Regions from separate parts of the Homo sapiens genome. Here regions 2 and 3 are each linked to region 1. Evidence: fine-mapped expression QTL. A gene starts in region 1. Each other region holds a variant in brackets. All regions are shown on one strand. Distances are between the middles of the regions.

Evidence for each region. PIP is the estimated chance that this variant, and not a neighbour inherited with it, causes the effect. A credible set is the group of variants that fine-mapping cannot tell apart.
Region 2: its variant is the best candidate, but not a certain one, in a credible set for the expression of ECRG4 in transverse colon (GTEx, PIP 0.63).
Region 3: its variant is the best candidate, but not a certain one, in a credible set for the expression of ECRG4 in whole blood (INTERVAL, PIP 0.65).

What each region holds. Positions count from the first base shown.
Region 1 is chr2:106,062,334-106,068,685 of GRCh38, forward strand. ECRG4 (ECRG4 augurin precursor) reads left to right here and starts at 3,355. Exons shown (of 4, transcript NM_032411.3): 1 at 3,355-3,510. The coding sequence starts at 3,432.
Region 2 is chr2:106,018,364-106,024,715 of GRCh38, forward strand. No RefSeq gene overlaps it. Among named protein-coding and RNA genes, the nearest start is that of ECRG4, 44 kb to the right of the region's middle. The variant G/A (reference allele first, on the strand shown) is at 3,901.
Region 3 is chr2:105,782,497-105,788,848 of GRCh38, forward strand. All of the region lies in intron 1 of NCK2 (NCK adaptor protein 2), which reads left to right. Among named protein-coding and RNA genes, the nearest start is that of NCK2, 41 kb to the left of the region's middle. RefSeq lists enhancers at 404-904, 4,190-4,761, 4,344-4,393. The variant C/G (reference allele first, on the strand shown) is at 3,707.

The sequences.
Region 1 (6,352 bases):
CTACAATGAGAGCTCCTGGCCAAAGGAAGGGAGGATCAGAGAGGTGTAAGAGCACTGGGTGGGGAGCTCAGAGGCCAGAGGGAGTTTGGTCTGAAAATAATTTCTAACATTTGTTGAGTGCTTACTGTACACCAGGCTCTGTGCATGTGATCTCTTACCCCAGTGTGATAGATAATATTGCCCCCATATTACCTCTGGCCTAGAGAGGACAGGTGATCTAATTACACAGTTTGTGCATAATGCAGAAGGAACTGGAACCCAAAGCCCACGTCCTTAGCTACTGTCACATGGCAGAAACGAAGGTCCTGGGGTTCATTTGGTATGGTATATCAAGGGAGAGAAACTGCATTATTAAACTGAGTGAGGCCAGGTAGAGACTTTAGGAAGCAGGTGCGTTTTGGTGGAGAGCTGAATGAGCTGAGTTACTCAAAGTGCAGTCTGAGGACTACAGCATCCTCTAGGAGCCAATAAAAACAAAATGGAGACAGCTGGGCCCCACCCAAGACCTACGTCATTCCAGGGGATTTGACTCAGAAATCTGCACTAACAAGCTCCTTGGGATTTTCAGACTAAGTTTGAGAAACACTGGAATGAAAAATCAGACCAGACTTAGCAGCGGGAGAAAGGAGGGTCTTGTACATTAAAGGGGTGAAAAATTTAAGCGACTAGTAAGAAAAGGACCTTTAATAGTGTCTCACATGTAGCTAGCATTTTATAAGTGCTACAGACTGAATTTTTGTGTCTCCCCTAAATTCATACATTAAATCCTAATTCCTGAAGTGAGGTGTTAGGAGGTGGGGCCTTTGGGAGATGATCAGGTACTGAGGATGGATCCCTCATGAGTGGGATTTGTGACCTCATAAAAGAGCCCCAGAGAGCTCCCTCACCCCTTCTACCGTATGAGGACACAGCAAGAAGGTGCCATCTAGGAAGCAGGAAGCAGGGCCTGACCAGACACCAAATCTGCTGGGGCCTTAGTCTTGAATTTCCAGCCTCCATAACTGTGCAAAATCCATTTCTGTTGCTTATAAGCTACCCAGCTTATGGGATTTTGTTTAGCAGCCCAAATGGACTAAGACAGTAAGTAAATACCGTTGAACAAATAGACAGATGAAAAGGAACTTAGATATCAGCATAAGAACTGACATAGTGTCTCCAGGCTGAACACATGAGTTTAGCGGCCCCTCTGAAGGCAGAGTGAGACGCTCCCTGCTACAGAACACTCTCTGGTCATATCCCGATTAAGTGAAGATAATTTATTTTTTTTTAGATAGTGTCTCGCTTTGTCACCCAGGCTGGAGTGCAGTGGCGCAATCTCGGCTCACTGCAACCTCCGCCTCCTGGATTCAAGTGATTCTCCTGCCTCAGCCTCCCAAGTAGCTGGAACTACAGGCACGCACCACCACGCCTGGCTAATTTTTGCATTTTTGTAGAGAGGGAGTTTCACCATGTTGGTCAGGCTGGTCTCAAACTCCTGACCTCAAGTGATCTGCCCTCCTCAGCCTCCCAAAGTGCTGGGATTACAGGCGTGAGCCACCATGATCCCCCTTAAGTGAAGAGAATTTGAATGTCATATTAGAAGTAGATATTGGTAGCAATTTGGGGTAAGGGGGATGATCTCCACAGGATAAATAAGATTACAGCCATTATGTTTAATGTATGTTCTAAACCAATCCAAACAGAATATTGGCTTTTTATGTGCTTTGATTTTTCTTTCTAATGATAAATTTCTTGTCCTCAGGCAAAAGTAAATATATGCCTGGTTACTTTTAAAACTCCTATCCCCTATTCTACAGTTTCCTCAAGGGTTTAGAAGCACTTCCCCAAGATAGCTAGATGTGTAACATTATCCTTCTGATTCTCTCTGACACCCTGGGCAGTATCATGATCTAACTCAGACCCACTTTGCACTTTTTTCTTTGGTTGGCCACCATCTGTCTTTACTAGCTCAATGTTAGAAGACTTCTTTCTCCTTCCTGCTGGAGAAATTCAACTGCATTGCATGGAGAGCTAATTATATGGAGAGACAGTAAGTGCTTACCACTGGAGGGTATAAAAATACTGGCCGGTGTGGTGGCTCACACCTGTAATCCTAACACTTTGGGAGGCCGATGCGGGTGAATCATTTGAGTTCAGGAGTTCAAGACCAGCCTGGCCAACATGGTAAAATCCCTTCTCTACTAAAAATACAAAATTAGCTGGGCCTCGTGGCACATGCCTTGTAATCCCAGCTACTCAGGAGGCTGAGGCAGGAGAATCGCTTGAACCCCGGAGTTGGAGGTTGCAGTGACTGAGATCCCATCACTGCACTCCAGCCTGGGCAACAAGAGTGAAACTCCGTCTCAGGGAGGGGAAAATAAGTGAGAACCTTGGTGAAGGAAAGAGGTAATCAGCTCAGTTCAGGGCAGATCTGAGATGGGAAGACAGGAAAGGTAATCTCACATCTCCATCCTTTTGTAGCCCAGGCCTGGAGAGAATAATTAGGTGACCCGCTCAGAGTCCGTTGGGATAAAGTTGTTCTAGTTTTTGTTCACTACGCCTCCTTTCACGTGTCCTCTACAGTTGAACAGGCCAGTTACTGGGATGCAGTTCTGCGTTTCCCTTGGGTCTCACCTTAACATCGCTCGCTGAAGTGTGCCCAGATTACAGAGCGGGCAAAGGGAAGCAGTGGTTTTGCTCACAGCTGCAGGGCACCAGGTTCCTGGTTTCTCAAAGGCTTTTCTATTGGAGAAGTTTGGGTGAGACGATTTCCCGGACTGCAGCTCTGAACCCAGACTGTGGAATCTTTCAAACTATCTCAAAAACAGCCCCGCCTAAGGCATCCTTAAGAGCAGCTCTGAACTAAGGAAATTCCAAAGCCCACTTTACAAACCAGGCAGAAGCAAGGCCCCCAAGCAGGGAGGGAGGGAGATAGGGAAGAAAGGGGTGAGGAGTAAGGGGAACAGTGGCGCGGCTGGGGCGGGCGGAGGAAGTGGGGGAGCCAAGGAGACACCCCAGCGCTGGGATCCGGCAAGTCCTCCCTCTGAGTGGCCAGGGGGCCTCGTCCCTTCTCCCGATGCCTTCTGCCCTTCCTTGGGTCTCCGGAACCCAGCTTGTCCTAACCGCTTTCGCTGCGGGCAGCGCTGGCCACGCGGCCCCCGCCGCCGGCGGTTCTCCGTGGCCAAGCATCCTTGGCCTTGGAGCCCAGGGGCTGCGTTCCCCTTGGGGCCGGGGCGGGAGAGAGGACCTCGGTGGTACTCGCCCGTGCGCTGGGCGCAGCCGCTTGGCCCTCAGCCCTCTGGCGCGGCGCCCACCCGCTGGGTCCCGCCCCGGCAGCGACGCAGGGATAACCCGCGGCCGCGCCTGCCCGCTCGCACCCCTCTCCCGCGCCCGGTTCTCCCTCGCAGCACCTCGAAGTGCGCCCCTCGCCCTCCTGCTCGCGCCCCGCCGCCATGGCTGCCTCCCCCGCGCGGCCTGCTGTCCTGGCCCTGACCGGGCTGGCGCTGCTCCTGCTCCTGTGCTGGGGCCCAGGTGAGCGGGGCGATGCCAGGCTGATTGATAGCGGCACCAGGGGTTGGCCCCATGTGGCGCTTCCATGGTGCCCGGGGAGAGCGATCGGTGATGGGGTGGCGGCGTAGGGACCCATCCTTAGCCTAGGCAGGGCCAAGGGGTGGTAGAGGACCGGGTCTGGGGTTTTGCACTCGCACAAGTGCGAAGTGGTGCCCTTGTGAGGGTGGAGAGAGTACCGGGGTCAAGGGGAGGGTCTCAGATCTCCCGGGCAACCTTGGGCAAGGAGGGCCAGGCGTCCGAAGGGTGGGCAAGTAGTGTTTCGTGGCTTAACGTAAGGGGCAAAAGGGTTGTGGGGGCTTTACGCAGCTGGTAACCCAGAGGAGGCAAATGGCACCATCACCGCCATTCCCTTCCAGGCAGTCGCTTAGCAACCAAGTTGACTTGCGCTTCCCAGCTGGGTCAAGTTGCAATTTGCAAAGCTGGGCACAGGCCTCACACCCCAGAGAGGGGAAAGGCTCTTAAAGGAGTAATGCTTAATCTTTCCTGCTTCGTGGAGCTCCCAGCGAATCGGTTGAAAACTCTGAAATTCTCTGCTCGCTCTCTGTAAAACGTGCATTCACACGCACACCCAGAATGATGGGTGCTCCGATATCTGATCGCTGGGCTCCACAGGCCCCACTTTAGGAACCATAATCTGAAGCCGTGGTTTGTCCTGAGTTACCACCTTCACTGGGTAGGAGGAACATTTATGGTTCACAAGTGGCCTCAAGGACACATGACTGCCTTTGAAGCTTACAACTAGGGGAGGCAGGGATTGTTACCTCAGAGTTACTGGTGTATGAAGTGACTTGCCCAAGAGCCTGAGACTGGCGCTGTCCCACTGCAAAGCAGCTGGGCACTGCCTAATGTAAAAGGGAGGCTCACTCGGTTGCTCAGTTTCTGTATTTTGCTCATTCGAAACAGGTATGGAAACTGAACTCGAGGTGAGAAGAGGCAGGGGACATTCAGTAGGAGCCCTGGGATGGAGCCCCGGGGTTGCTAAAACAGCAGGAGGCGTGGTGAGGTCTGTTCAGGTGGGGAGGATTATTGTTCCACCTTAGAATCACAGGCGAAGCTAATCAGTCATTTCCCGTTGTATGGTTTACCTGCCTCCCACTCTTTGTTCTTGCCACTTTAAGAAGCACATCTGGGCCGGCCTTGGTGGTTCATACCTGTAATCCCAGCACTTTGGGAGGCCGGGGGGGGGGGGGGGGCAGATCACCTGAGGTCGGGGGTTCGAGACCAGCCTGACCAACATGGAGAAACCCCGTCTCTACTAAAAATGCCAGACGTGATGGCACGTTCCTGTAATCCCAGCTACTCGGGAGGCTGAGGCAGGAGAATTGCTTGAATCTGGGAGGAGGAGATTGCGGCGAGCTGAGATCGTGCCATTGCACTCCAGCCTGGGTAACAAGAGTGAAACTCCGTCGCAAAATAAAAAAAGAAATAAATAAAAGAAGAAGAAGAAAAAAGCACATCTGAATAAGTCAAGTGAGCACTGGCTACAAGCCATTTATTTTCAGGACTTGTATTTTATTTAGTTTATACCAATAACTCAGTTAAAATATCATCACCGAGCTGGGATGTGAAAGTTCTTATACAGTGAAAATATTTTTTTTTTTTTTGAGATGGAGTTTTGCTCTTGTTGCCCAGGCTGGAGTGTAATGGCGTGACCTTGGCTCACTGCAACCTCCGCCTCCCAGGTTCAAGCGATTCTCCTACCTCAGCCTCCCGAGTAGCTGGAATTACAGGCATGTGTCACCACGCCCAGCTAAGGTTTTTGTTTTTGTTTTGTATTTTTAGTAGAGATGGGGTTTCTCCATGTTGGTCAGGCTGGTCTCAAACTGCCGACCTCAGGTGATCCACCAATCTTGGCCTCCCAAAGTGCTGGGATTACAAACATGAACCACCATGCCCAGCCTACAGTGAAAATCTTTATGTAATCCCAAAGGTGACTCTTTATGCCACCTCCAAACTTTTTTTTTTTTTTTGAGACAGGGTCTCACTTTGTTGCCTAGGCAGGAGTGCAGTGGTGTGATCATAGCTCACTGCAGCCTTGATCTCCCGGACTCAAGCAATCCTCCCACCTCAGCCTCCCGAGTAGCTGGGACTACAGGTGTGTTGACTCCACGCCTGGCAATTTTTTTTTTTTCTTTTAATTTTTAGTAGAGATGAGTCTCACTATGTAGCCCAGGCTGGTCTCGAACTCCTGGGCTCAAGTGATGCTTCTGCCTCGGCTTCCCAAAGTGCTAGGATTATAGGCTTGAACCACCACGCCCTTCCTCACTCACAAACATTTAATAAAGAAAATGACCGTGACCCCTTCTTGATCAATTTATTAATATTAAGCACCTTCAAAGGAGCATTTTGCAGCTCTGAATTTGCTGGGAGAGCTAATGCTAGGCAACTGGATTGGATAAATTAAGGAGTGCTTATTATTGCAGCCTTGAATGAACAACTGATGATATTGGGTGAAAAGTCCTTAATACAGAAAAAAATCACAGCTATTCTATTGTTCCTTATCCTTTTCCTCAAACAAATTTAGTGTAGTGTCCAGTTATATGTACTGATATGGAGTTCAGTGTATAGTACCTGGCACAGCAGCAACATTCATAATTCATAATTTGGGACTTATTTGTGCTTTTCCATCTATAGCTAAGGTTTGGCGAGGCTCTCATTTCTGGAGTAATAGTGACATACATTTGCTGCAAGAAATTGCAGCCTCATCGCAAATGCCTACACGCAGTGTCTATTTCAACATCAGACCACATTTCATTCATTAATTGTTAAGCACTTTCACAGAAGGCAAACAGATGGAGGGGCC
Region 2 (6,352 bases), 44 kb before region 1:
CTTGTTATTTAGCCACTACCTGTGGAGCCCACTTCCTGTGTCCCTGGAGTCACCACGTCCTTCCTCCCACCGTCTGGCTCTGGCGCTCCTCCTGTCTGTGTCTCACTCCCTTTGAAGTTAACTTATCTTCCATAACCTGGGAAAGGGGAGATCTTTTGACCTATGACTCAAAATCTAGAAGCAATATAGAAAAATATTTATATATTTGATAATATACAATTTTTAAAAGAGAAAATCTGTATGACAAGAAACACCTCAAGCAAAGAAAAAAGACAAATGGCAAACTGGCAGTAAATATCAGCAACTCACACCTGAAAGGATCAATAGCTCTAATAAAGAAAAAACTTCTGAAAATAGAGAAGACCAACAATCCTATAGAAAAGTGGGGGGCCAGAGAGGAGAAATGCAAATAAAAACTATCCTGAGTTACCAAGTCTTACTATCAGATTAATCAAATCACAAAGTTGAGTAGTACACAGTGAGGGTGGGCTTGGAGAAACAGGAGTTTGTGAAAGTGAAATGAGGTTTTGACAGTGGCTAATAAAATTCTCTATGCATTCCCCTTTTGTTTTTGCAATGTTCTTTCCAGGAACCTATTTAAATATTGACAAGACGCTGGACACAGTGGCTCACGCCTGTAATCCCAGCACTTTGGGAGACTGAGGTGGACGGATCATGAGGTCAGGAGATCGAGGCCATCCTGGCTAACATGGTGAAACCCTGTCTCTACTAAAAATACAAAAAATTAGCTGGGCATGGTGGCGGGCGCCTGTAGTCCCAGCTACTCAGGAGGCTGAGGCAGAAGAATGGCGTGAATCCGGGAGGCGGAGCTTGCAGTGAGCCGAGATCATGCCACTGCACTCCAGCCCGGGTGACAAAGCAAGACTCTGTCTCAAAAAAAAAAAAAAAAAAAAAATTGGCAAGACACCCCAAAAGACATATGCCAAGGAGTATTCACAGCAACATTATTTGTGATGGCCCCAAATGTCCACCAATCGGAGACTGGTGGAGTTCTGTGCAGCTTTCAAAACAAAGTAGGAAGATCTCTAGATCCTACTATGCTGGGTTCTCCAGGATATACTGTCAATTGAAAGAAGCAAGTAGAGAAAAGTAAATACAGGCCGGGTGCAGTGGCTCATGCCTGTAATCCCAGCATTTTGGGAGGCCGAGGCAGGTGGATCCCTTGAGGTCAGGCATTCAAGACCAGCCTGGCCAACATGGCAAAACCCTGTCTCTACTAAAAATACAAAAATTAGACAAGCGTAGTGACACATGCCTGTAATTCCAGCTACTCCAGAGGCTGAGGCAGGAAAATAGCTTAAGCCTGGGGGCAGAAGGTACAGTGAGCTGAGATTGCACCACTACACCCCTCTATCCTGGGCAAAAAAGAATGAATGAGACTCTATCTCAAAAAAAGAAAAAAGAAAATATAGAAAAGTAAATATAATACGCTGCCATTTGTCTAAGAAAGAGGGGATATGAATATATATATATATATAAATAAAACAGAAGGATTGATTATATAATGAATAGCATCCTTATCTTTAAAAGGAAGGAGAAGGTGGAGAGAGCAAGGGTGAAGCTAGATTTCTCTCAATCTACCTTCTACTTCCATGTGATAGAAGGTATGTGAATAAAAAAATTAAAGAAGTAAAAATTCTATAATCCTAGTTTTGTTTTTTTCTAAAAATATAAAGAAACTTATTTCCCACATCCTTTTAAAACCCAATGTTAATGGGTACCTAGTAATTCATTACAAAGATGTCCCATGTGTTACTTAACAAACCTAACTGTGTTTTGGAAGTATCTCAGCTTAACAGCAAAACATTCCGTGGGGAGTCAGAAATCCCAGGCTCTGAGCCAGCTTCCATTATGCAGAACCATAAGATATTACTGCTGTTGGATTCTTTTTGCCCTGCCGAAACAGCAATGCGTAAACTCCAACCTTGTGGCTATTACTCCTGGGACCCTGGGCCAGTGACTTCTGTCGCCTCTCCTGAAAACTCTAGAGGAGTCCTGCCAGGCTCAGGGATGGTTGTGAGGGTCAAAAGAAATGCTGGGCAGCAGGTTTTAGGTGACATATTGTTAGAATCGAGAGGAGGCGGGTCTGCCTGGTGCAATGAGAAGGTATGAGTGTGAATCCTTTGATAACTCCTTGCAGAACAATTCTGAAAATAAGGCATAGGTTCATTCCCAAACTGCACCAGGGCTGCAAGCACATTCTAAATTATACCAGTTATAAAGACAGAACTCTTGCAGTGCTAATGCAATTAAAGGGCATTTGCATGGAATGAGATTTTAGGTTTTTTGTTTTTTTGTTTTTTGTTTTTTTGCAGCACTGTTTAAAGAGGGTCCTTTGAGTTGTATTCTTAATTTGTGTAGTTTTTTTCCCTTTAAGATGATCTGTGCACTTCTCACATTTGAGATGCACTGGCTGGAAAATATTGCAGCAGCCCAGGCAGGGCTTGATTTCAGCCGACGTTTCTCAGGGCCTCCACACTAGGCATGCCTGGGAAATTGCCTTTTGGGACCTCTGCCAGGCCCCCTGGGAAATGGGAGCAGCCATCCTCCAGTGTAGATTTAGTTGTTCAGTGACCCAGGGTGTCCAAAATAAGCAGAGAGAAAGAGCCCTCACTTCTCTTCCAAGCAAGGCAGTGTCGTTTGCACTTGGCTCTGTAATTAGGAGCTACTGGTGAGATGCTTTTTGGAAGTGAGCGAGCCCTTTCAATTTGGCCATTTGTGGTCCTGAATTACAGCTGACTGGAAATTAAAGCTGTAAGCGCAGCCTCAAACCACAGGGAATGGGGCTGAGGGCCTCCCAGCCACCTGGCACAGCTCTGGAATGCTTACAGCACTTGATAACGCTTGCTAGGGGCAAGACAAGGGCAATAAAATGTGAATTAGATGGAGATGAACATGCCATCCGGGGCAGGAAGAAATCCTCAAGCAGATGTGTGTGGAAATTAATGGTACGGTGATAACAAATGTTGAAGCACTGCACAGTGACCATACTGGGGAATCGGCCCCCTGACAACTGTTTGTTTTACAAAGGGCGGGGCCTCCTGTGGATGGAAGGAAAACGTAAGAGGTAATAGCTTTTGAATTTGGTGCAGTTGATGCATATTAAGGAGATCTTCCAGTCTGTTTCAGGAATGCATTTCAATCTGTGCTGCCAAAATCTTTGTTGGCCAGGGTCAATATTCAACTTATTAAAAGAAAAGTCTCATTCTCTTTCCCCTTTTTTCCATTTGCTCCTTCTCCAGATAAAGAACGAGGGTAACTAATGCAGAGAAAAAATAACCACCCTCAACCAGGAGGCCACGCTGCAGAAGGATCCATCTCTCTGAGTTGTCTCTTTACCCTAGGCTGGGTCTGGATGTTCAGAGCAGAGTTTTAGCAGGCATGCTTTGGAGCTCAAGAACAGGGGTCCCCAACCCCCAGGCTACAGACTGGTACCAATCTGTGGCCTGTTAGGAACCGGGCTGCACAGCAAGAGGTGAGTGGCAGGTGAGTGAGTGAGCATTACTGCCTGAGCCATGCCTCCTGTCAGATCAGCCTGGCATTAGTTCTCGAAGGAGCATGAACCCTATTGTGAACTGTACATATGAGGGATTTAGGTTGCATGCTCCTTATGAGAATCTGTACCTGATGATCTGAAGTGGAACAGTTTCATCCCAAAACCACCCTTCCCCACCCCTATACTCCCCCTAATCCCTGTCCGTGGAAAAATTATCTTCCATGAAACTGGTCTCTGGTGCCAAAAAGGATGAGGAACGCTGCTCAAGAACATAAAAGAAGTACAGACCCTAATCCTGGATGCTCGGGTAGGCTGGTGATTGGCTTTTCAAAAGCTTTATTTCTATTAAAGGAGAGAAAATAAAATGAGAAAGATACCACTTC[G/A]ATGGCTGTAACAAAATTCTAATATTTAAAAGTGATACCAAAATATAGATTGTGTAAAGTAGGGAGCAGATTTCATGGTGGGAAATACAGGGCAGTGAAGTAGAAATAATTGCTGGGTTTGACATTTGAAGACCTAGGTTTGGTTCCTAGCTGGGCCACATTTTAGCGGTCACTATGGTCTTTGAGTACTTCCAGGCTCATCTTATATTTTTCCTGCTCAACACCCAAATTAGCTATTTACCAAGGAATCCTGGTTGCTTTTGATAGAGAGTGATACTTAGATCCGGGTGAAAGAAACCAAGATCTGGGGCCTACATATGCTCATTGCTATGAGGGCCTCAGTGTGTCTCCCTTTCAGTGGAGAGAACTAAGGAATGTATCTTTGGAATCATGGATTTATACTGATATCTTCAATTCAAAGACAATTCAACACAAATACATTGCCGAGTTCTTCCTCAATATCCTCCACACCATATTTGTATCTCTCTTCTTCCTTACTCATTGCTTTATTCTAGGACATAACTCAAAATATTCCAGAATCACAGTATCGATACCAGTACTGACAACAAAACTCCTAAGATCAAGATTTCTTTGCAGGTCTTTTTACCCTTAGAATAAGTCCAACTAAATGTGTATGCTTGGAGCTCAGCTTTTAAGTTACTTAATTCTTTTTTTCTATGTACTTATGTAACCAGTTTGGTAGATAGTATATCATTGTGTTGTGTTTATCCAAGTTTAGAGTGCTTCTAAAAAACTCTTTGATTTAATTTTATTTTTGAATATGTAAAACACATAATTCAAAAGTCAAAACTGGCCAGGCACAGTGGCTCACGCCTGTAATCTCAGCATTTCAGGAGGCCATGGCAGGAAGATTGCTTGAGCTCAGGGGTTTGAGACCAGCCCTGGCAACATGGCACAACCCCATCTCTACAAAAAATACAAAAATTAGCCTGGCATGGTGGTGCATACCTGTAGTCCCAGCTACTCAGGAGGCTGAGGTGTGACGAATGGATTGCTTGAGCCCAGGAGACTGAGGCTGCAGTGAGCTGTGAGTGTACCACTGCACTCCAGCCTGGGAGACAGAGCAAGAACTTGTCTCAAAAGAAAAAACAAAGTCAAAACTACATAAAAAGTGATAGTCATTCCTGTCCTTTACCTCTTACACTCTGAGCCTATCTCACCCCCCAAATTTCACTGGTTTATGATTTAATCTTCCTGCCATCACGGCTAGGCTAGAATCACGGTGTTGGCAGTGCTATCTTCCTTCCAGGTGATGATCCGTTTCCTCGCCTTTTCCAGCTTCTAGAGGCCACCTGCATTCCTTGGCTGTGGCCCCTTCCTCCACCTTCAGAGCCAGCAAAGTCAGGCTGAGTCCTCTTCATGCTGCATTTCGCTGGCTCCCTCTCTTCTGCCTCCCTTTTCCACTTATAAAGACCCTTGCAACCACATTGGGCCCACCTGCCCAAGACAGTCAGCTGATTAGCTGTCTTAATTCCATCTGCAACTTTGATAGCCCTTTGGCATGTAACCTAATATATTCACAGGTTCTAGAGATTAGGATGTGGACATCTTTGGGGCCATTATTCTGCCTGCCGTGGATTTCTGCTATCACATTGGCTAACTACTATTGGTTTGTTTCTTGCAACCACATCAGAGGAGCCAGGAAACCTCCCAGAGGAAGTTTGAGTGTTTTCCCTACACCTGGGAACTGGTGTCAGGAAGGTTTTTGCTCACTCTTAATATCTCTGATGAAGCCTGAAATCCTGCAGGACTTAGCAATTGGTCTTGGAAGAAAAATGGCACCATTGTCAGGGCTGGAAGATGCTTTGTGCCTGAGCCAGCATCTGAGCAGCTGCAAGCATCCTTGTTGCACTCTCTTCCCCTTGAGGAATGAGGACAACGCAGCACCCACAGGTGTCCTCATCCGAAGCTGGGCTATTCTTTTACCCAGCTCAGCTCACTCAAGTTGCAAATCTGTGAATGCAAACTTGGAACGGAATGCCCTAAAACCAGCTTCAGCTAGCCCAAAGTTGGGGAGTAGAAGCGGGGAGGGGGGAGAATTATGACTTAAATTATGATTTTAAATGAACATGAGGTTGCTCTTTCCTTTCCAAAATTTGAAACCTGCCTTGCATTCCTGGCTACAATAAATAAGACTTTTGACATTTTTCTACAAGGTAAAAGGTAGACGTAAGAAGTGTGTGAGGAGATGTGTTCTCCCTCCTGCCCTCCGCCTACACTAGCAGCTCAAGGAGTTCCCTGGTTTCGATTGCCTCATTCCCCACCCTGGGCTGTTCTGTCCCTCAGGCAGGGCCTTGGGGCCTGTGAAATCAGGGGCCCCAGGAGAATCTAACAGGTGGCTTGGCTGAGGGTGTGGAGTCAAGAGGGACCTATGGTGAAGGTTGGCTCATGGAACCCTAATTTAGCTCATAAGGGTCCTTCACTAAGCTCT
Region 3 (6,352 bases), 280 kb before region 1:
AAAATCTCACTTGAGGAATGCTGGCTATGTGAAGTGTCTTATGTTTTCATCCTCTCACTCTTGAACTCCATGCATAGGTAGTATGTGGTTTTAGTACTTTTTATTTTGTTAGAGCAGTTTTGTTTTCATGGCTAATTTAGCTCTCCTCATGCAACGTCAAATGATAGAACCTGATCGTTTCTGAGAGTGGGGGATCCGGCCCGTTGAAATCATTTGGCAAAATGGGCTGCAGCTGCCTGTAGAGGCGAAGTGGATGTCGGGGAGAAGAGGAGGTTGCAAAGGCTGTTAGGCTTGTGCTCAGCTCTGGCAGCCACAGCACCTGCCTCTCAGAGCTGGCTTCCAGTGACTAGTACTCACTTACTGTCCCCAACGCTCCCAACTGGAGAGGCGTAGGGGGCAGTTACTCCAGACACTTGTGCTCACCGGCTTGGCGAAGAGGGTGGCAGCCTCACCTTTATTTCCGGTGTCATAACAAGCCCCATTTGCAGCTGAGTTGGTCGACTATCATTTGCAACAGGTAAGCCTTAAGGCCAGAGCCTTTTTGGGTACCTGGGATATAACCGTGGAACAAGATAGATGGGGAAGCTGCCTTAGAATAAGAGTTGCAGAAGGCCAGAGCCCTGGGAGGTGGTTTAACTTTCTCTGCAGCACTGCTTTGCTTTCTGCCGCAGCAGCTGAGGAAGCCAATTTAACCTTGAATTTTCTTTAAGATGATATGTAATCTTTTGAAGATGGAAAGTAATGGCAGTGGAATGTTCTGCGTGCTGTTTGTAGCCTCGCTAGAGCTTGGGTGGGCCCCCATCGCCCTCCTCCTTTGGGGAGCCTCTAAGAGTCACTAGAGGAGACTTCCCTGAGCTTCCTTCCTCGGAGTGAGGCATTAAATTGTGCCCGTGTTCTGGGGTAGCACCGTGAAGGCCCGCGTGGAACATGGTTTTTATTTAGAGTAAAAACAGCTCGATGCAGCGTTGCCTGTCTGAGCCAGACTTAGCTCTTCATCTTCACCTGCTTGTGGGAAGCTTCGTACACCACCAAGGCACAGGTTAATGTGCAGTATTTGCCACCGTGGGTGCAGTTACTAGGAAGGCAGCCGTTCGCGGAGAATAATGGTGTGTTTTTTCCACCTTGTTCCTCTGAGCATCATGAAATACCTTAGCACGAAGAAACCCTGTAAATATTCTGGGTAATAGCCCTACATAAATGTATTCAGATTATGTTTTTTTTTCGCTAATAGGTGAAAAATGATGACCTCCACTCTTTCCAAGAGGGGTGGCCTGTTCCTGAGCGACTTCAGTGTGCTTCCCCACAGAGAGGGTTTTGCAGCTGGAAACAAGGGCATTTCTTCCCAGAAAGTGGGAGTTGTTTCGCTTCTCCCTTTATAGTACTGCCTTGTAGCAATCTGAAATGTGGATATATTTGGAATTTGCACGAGAAAATGAAACACCCTTTCTCTGCAGAAGACAGAGTGCCATTGCCTTTGCAGGTCACTGAGTAAGCAGCAGGACCTGCTTCAGCTGGACGGCAGGTCCCTTCTGTGGCACCTGGTTGGCCTCAACACCATGCGTGGCATTGGCAGTGATGAAATTCATTTTCATTCAGGAAAGCGTCACTGGGAGCTTTTCTTTTTTGAGAGAGGCTCTCCCTCTGTCACCCAGGCTGGCGTGCAGTGGCGTCATCTCTGTTCACTGCAGCCTCTACCTCTTGGGCTCAAGTAATCCGCCCGCCTCAGCCTCCCAAAATGCTGGGACTACAGGCATGAGACACCACGCCCGGCTGTTATTTCTAATAGGAAGTTGCCATCCCTTTTCTCACCCCAGTGGCATTTCTGGGGAGCAGTTTTCCCACCTGCTGATCGGACTCCTTGTGGTGGTCATATGGGCTTGGGGTGAATCGGGAGGGGAGAGTTTAATTTGCTTACATGTCAAGCTGTTTAAAACAGCCTTTCAGGCTAGTAAGTATTGATGCTGGTTATATTGAGGTGAAGGGGCATGTTAAATTCAAGATACATTTGTGTTTCCACTATGTGGAGCCTCGCTTGTGGAGGGTACAATGTAGAGATGTATTCAGGTCTTTACAATGTAGGTGAGCATAAATGCATTTTTATCATTTCTATAATAATCACATTTAAATTGAGCATGTCTGTGGTTAGGCAGGCAGTTACAAATGCTTGCCATAAAAGATTCTCATTTAGTCTAGTGAAAACTATAACACCATCAAACTTGCCCCTGGAGGAGCAGTGTGTCTGTTGAGGTCCATCCGTTCCTCAGCAGCCACTGTTCCAGGCCCGTGTTTCCCACACTTCCCATTTCAACATTCTTAGAATATGCACAAAGAGTGTGTCCTCAGATACTGACAGAATAGGATACACGAGTAAAGTTAGGAACACGTGCATGCACTTAGGCAGCCTCCCAGTTTGAAATGCTTTCTGAAGCAGGTAGTTGTTTTTTATGTGTTTTTTTGTGTGTTTTTTCGTTTTTGTTTTGTTTTTGTTTTTGTTTGTTTTGAGACGGAGTCTCGCTCTGTCGCCCAGGCTGGAGTGCAGTGGCGCGATCTCAGCTCACTGCAAGCTCCACCTCCTGGGTTCACGCCATTCTCCTGCCTCAGCCTCCTGAGCACATGGGACTACAGGCGCCGGCCACCACACCTGGCTAATTTTTTGTATTTTTAGTAGAGACAGGATTTCACTGTGTTAGCCAGGATGGTCTCCATCTCCTGACCTCATGATCCGCCCATCTCGGCCTCCCAAAGTGTTGGGATTACAGGCGTGAGCGGCAGTTGGTTCTTTACGGTGTCACTGGGAGCCGAGGTGGCCATGCTGTGTGTGTCCAAGTGTAAAAAGAACCAGAGGACGGTTCCCCCGTCCTGGCCAAGGAGGCTAGTGGGAAGCTTCCTGAGATGTCTGTGGACACAGGAAAAAATTGTTGTGTTGTCCTACAGGGAGACATGTGAGTGTAATTCCTGCTATTCAGAAAGATAGAGTCCAAAGTGACACGACCAAAAGACCGCCAATACAAAATCTAATGCAGCCTGCCCAGTCCTCCTTGTAACCTGGTCCCACTGACAGGTTTCCCGCTGTGAACAGTAAAGGGAAAGGCCCAATCTCCAATAGCACCAATAGAGTGGAAGCCACAGGATTGGCTCTGAGCCACCTCAACATCCGCTCAGGTGTTTGCAGGTATGCCCAGCCAGGGAGTCTGGGGCAGCCCTGCCGAGGTTAAGTTTGCCTTTGTGCTTTATAAGCCGAAGCTTGGGAGAACCTGATCACACCCAAAATGTCATTCTGAGGGTCAGCAGGAGGTTGGGCGCAGGACTCCTAGTAAGTGCTGAGTCTATTTATTTAGCTGTTCTCATTTGATGTGCTGAAGAAAATAAATACGATATCTAGTAGCAGTGCAATACTTTTGGTCTAGATGATGGTCCAGGGAGGCCCAAATTATTTAACTTGGGCGACTGGTTCCCTGGACTTAATACCTTTTGCCTGTTTTTTGTGTTTTCGTAAACGTGTGTGTGTCCACTCTTTGCCCATCTGTCAATTTTCTCATTTACCTTCTGCCTTATTTGCCTTATTCTCACGTCCCTTCCACTGCACATCTCTCTATCAGTTAATTAATCCATTCATCCAGCCAGCCTTTTATTGATCATCTGTTGTGTCTAGGGCAGCATGATTAGCGTTGTGGACTGAACAATAAATTACAAACAATCCCAGCAC[C/G]AGGGATGAAAAAATTATGTGTACAAATGACTCTGATAACAAATGATTATTTTGAATCTATGTAATAACCGTAGTGATCATTAGCTGAGCATGTGCTATGTGCCAGGCCTGGCTCTGAGCACGGACTTGTTCCATTAGCCCTGGGAACGGCCAGTGGGCAGGCTGGGGACAGGATGGGAGTTCGGGAAGGCTGGGAGTGTTGTCTTGGGCCTGTCTGGAAAGGTCTCTGCCTTTGGAGACCTGGCTGCCAGCCTTGGAGGTGGCCCTGGCCGCTGCTGGGATCTTGTGTCTGCTCCTCTCTAAGCATGAGATGCTGAGTCGGTTCCTTTAGCTCAGACTCATCCACACCTTTAGGAAAAGGAGGTAATGCCGGCCTCGCGCGGTTATGAGAGTGAAATTAAACTCCACATAGCTGGCTCAGGGTGAGGCCTGATAAGCACTGTGTCCCTGTGGTGGCTGTGGCCTGGCCTGACTCTCCTGGGTCCCCGGGCAGGGCTTCCTGTCTCCATCGCTGTCTCTTATTTCTCTGCCTCCTTCAGGTCCAGCTTCTACTCTCTCCTCCCTTCTGCCTCCCCCACGCATTGCTTCCTCCTGGGTTTGTTCCCCTCTGCCTCTCTTGGGCCAGTGCCTTCTACCAGCCCTGCTCCCACCCTAGCCTTAGGCTGACTCCCTTACCTCTGCTGCTCAGGCACCCTCCTTTCTAAAGCATGGTGATAACAGCACCGTCCAGACTCGAAGCAGGGGACCTGCGAAACTTCAGCTGGCGTGGTGCCGCACAGGTGCTCCCTGGCCTTGGTGGCTCTCAATGGGGTGAGCATGTGCCCTGCTTTCCTCTCTTCTGCCCTTTGCTGCGACTCCTCTGCTGTCTTGCTCTGCCCGCTGCAGGCGTGGTGGCACTGGGCAGCTGCTGTTACTCCCACTGCCCTCACCTTTGACCCTCAGCCCTGAGCACTCAGCTGGATTTCTCTTTTCTGGGTTGGTTGTCCTCACACTGAAGGAAGCTCAGCTCAGCGCCGTGGAAGGGGCAGGACCCAGTCTCAGCTCTGACATGGTCATATCTGTAGGCTTGGGCTGAGTCTTCCACCTGCAAGTGCAATGGACTGAAATTTTATGTCCCCCAGAAATTCAGGTGGTGAAGTTCTAACCCCCAGTGTGACTATATTTGGAGATGAGCCCTCTGAGGAAATAGGGTTGAGAGTAGGGCCCCCATAATGGGATTCCTGCCCTTCTGAAAAGAGACAGCAGAGAGCTCTCTCTGCCACCTGAGGACATAGCGAGAAGGCAGCCATCGGCAAGCCAGAAAGTGGCCCCCATCAGACTCTGCTGGCACTTGGATCCTGGACTTGCAGCCTCCAGAGCTGCGAGAAATGAATACCTGCTGTTGAAGCCCCCAGCCTGTGGTCTTTTGTTAGGGCTGCCTGAGCTGACTCAGGCAGTGAAGCTACCTCAGTCTCTCCCTGCGGTGGAGACTCCACCCCATGGGGTGTCAGGGTGCACTGGTGACCACTGCACCTTCCCCATAGGAGCATCTCCACTAGCCAGGTTCCTTCTTGCTGGAAACAAGGCCCATCTTTTCTTGATGACAGTGAGGGAATGGGTAGATGGGAAAATTACGGCCATAACTTGTTTTGCTTTAATTTTGGGCTACATCCATGTTATAAGATGATCTCATTCTGTTAGAAACACATGCGTATACCGCCCCCCACCGCCCCCGACTTGTAGATCCCTGGCCCATTGGCAGAAGTGAGTAGACCTGGGCTTCCTGCCCTCCTGGGCTCCACGTGCCACCAGCCAAGGACAAATCAGAGTTGGGATGTGTCTCCTTCCAAGGTTGGATCTGCTTGGATCCATTTTGGATGCAAAAGTGAGGGTGCTAGCTTTGAAAAAGCTTCTCAATTTGACTTTCCTTTCACTTCCGTAAAGTGTAGGGGATTAGAAGTGAGAGTTGGGGAGGAAGGAGGCCAATTCTAGATAAGTTTTTTCATCAGCTATGTGAATTGGAGACAAAAGTTAGAAAACCTAGGTACTAGTGCTGTCTTTTGCTTAAAGGATTTTTGTGCCCTTGAAACTTCTACACCCATAAAATGCATTTTCATGGAGTTAAAGCCATTGCTTAAAAGTAGGTTAAAAGGAGAGGGAAATTCTTTTCTCCATTTCTATCAACGCCATTTAGATGATGATGTTTCAGTCTTTTTTCCATGCTTAGGTTTCCTTTTTCCTCTGGTTTGTATATTTATAGTCATACTCTATCCAAATGAACTTTTCTCATTAATAGGGATTCTGAAACTACTGTTATCTCCATCTCCTCTTGAACAAGTAATACAAGCAATATATATTTTTGATATTTAACATATCTATAGTTGTACTATATTAATACAATTATTATACTGTATATTACTTATATGTAGGTTAAATAAGACACTTCTGTTGGCCAGTGCAGAACTTCCTCATCTCTAAGTGCCTTCTCCTAGAGTTTTCTATTTTTTTGTTTTCTTTCAATATGCTTTATCCATAGAATGCATAATTTTTTTTGTTTGTTCTCCTTCATTCGTTTTCTTCATTCTTATATAGCTTAAATCAGTTACAAACAAGCCACTGTAATCCAATACTCTGTACTTTAAACAAAAGCTATCTGTGTTAATTCTG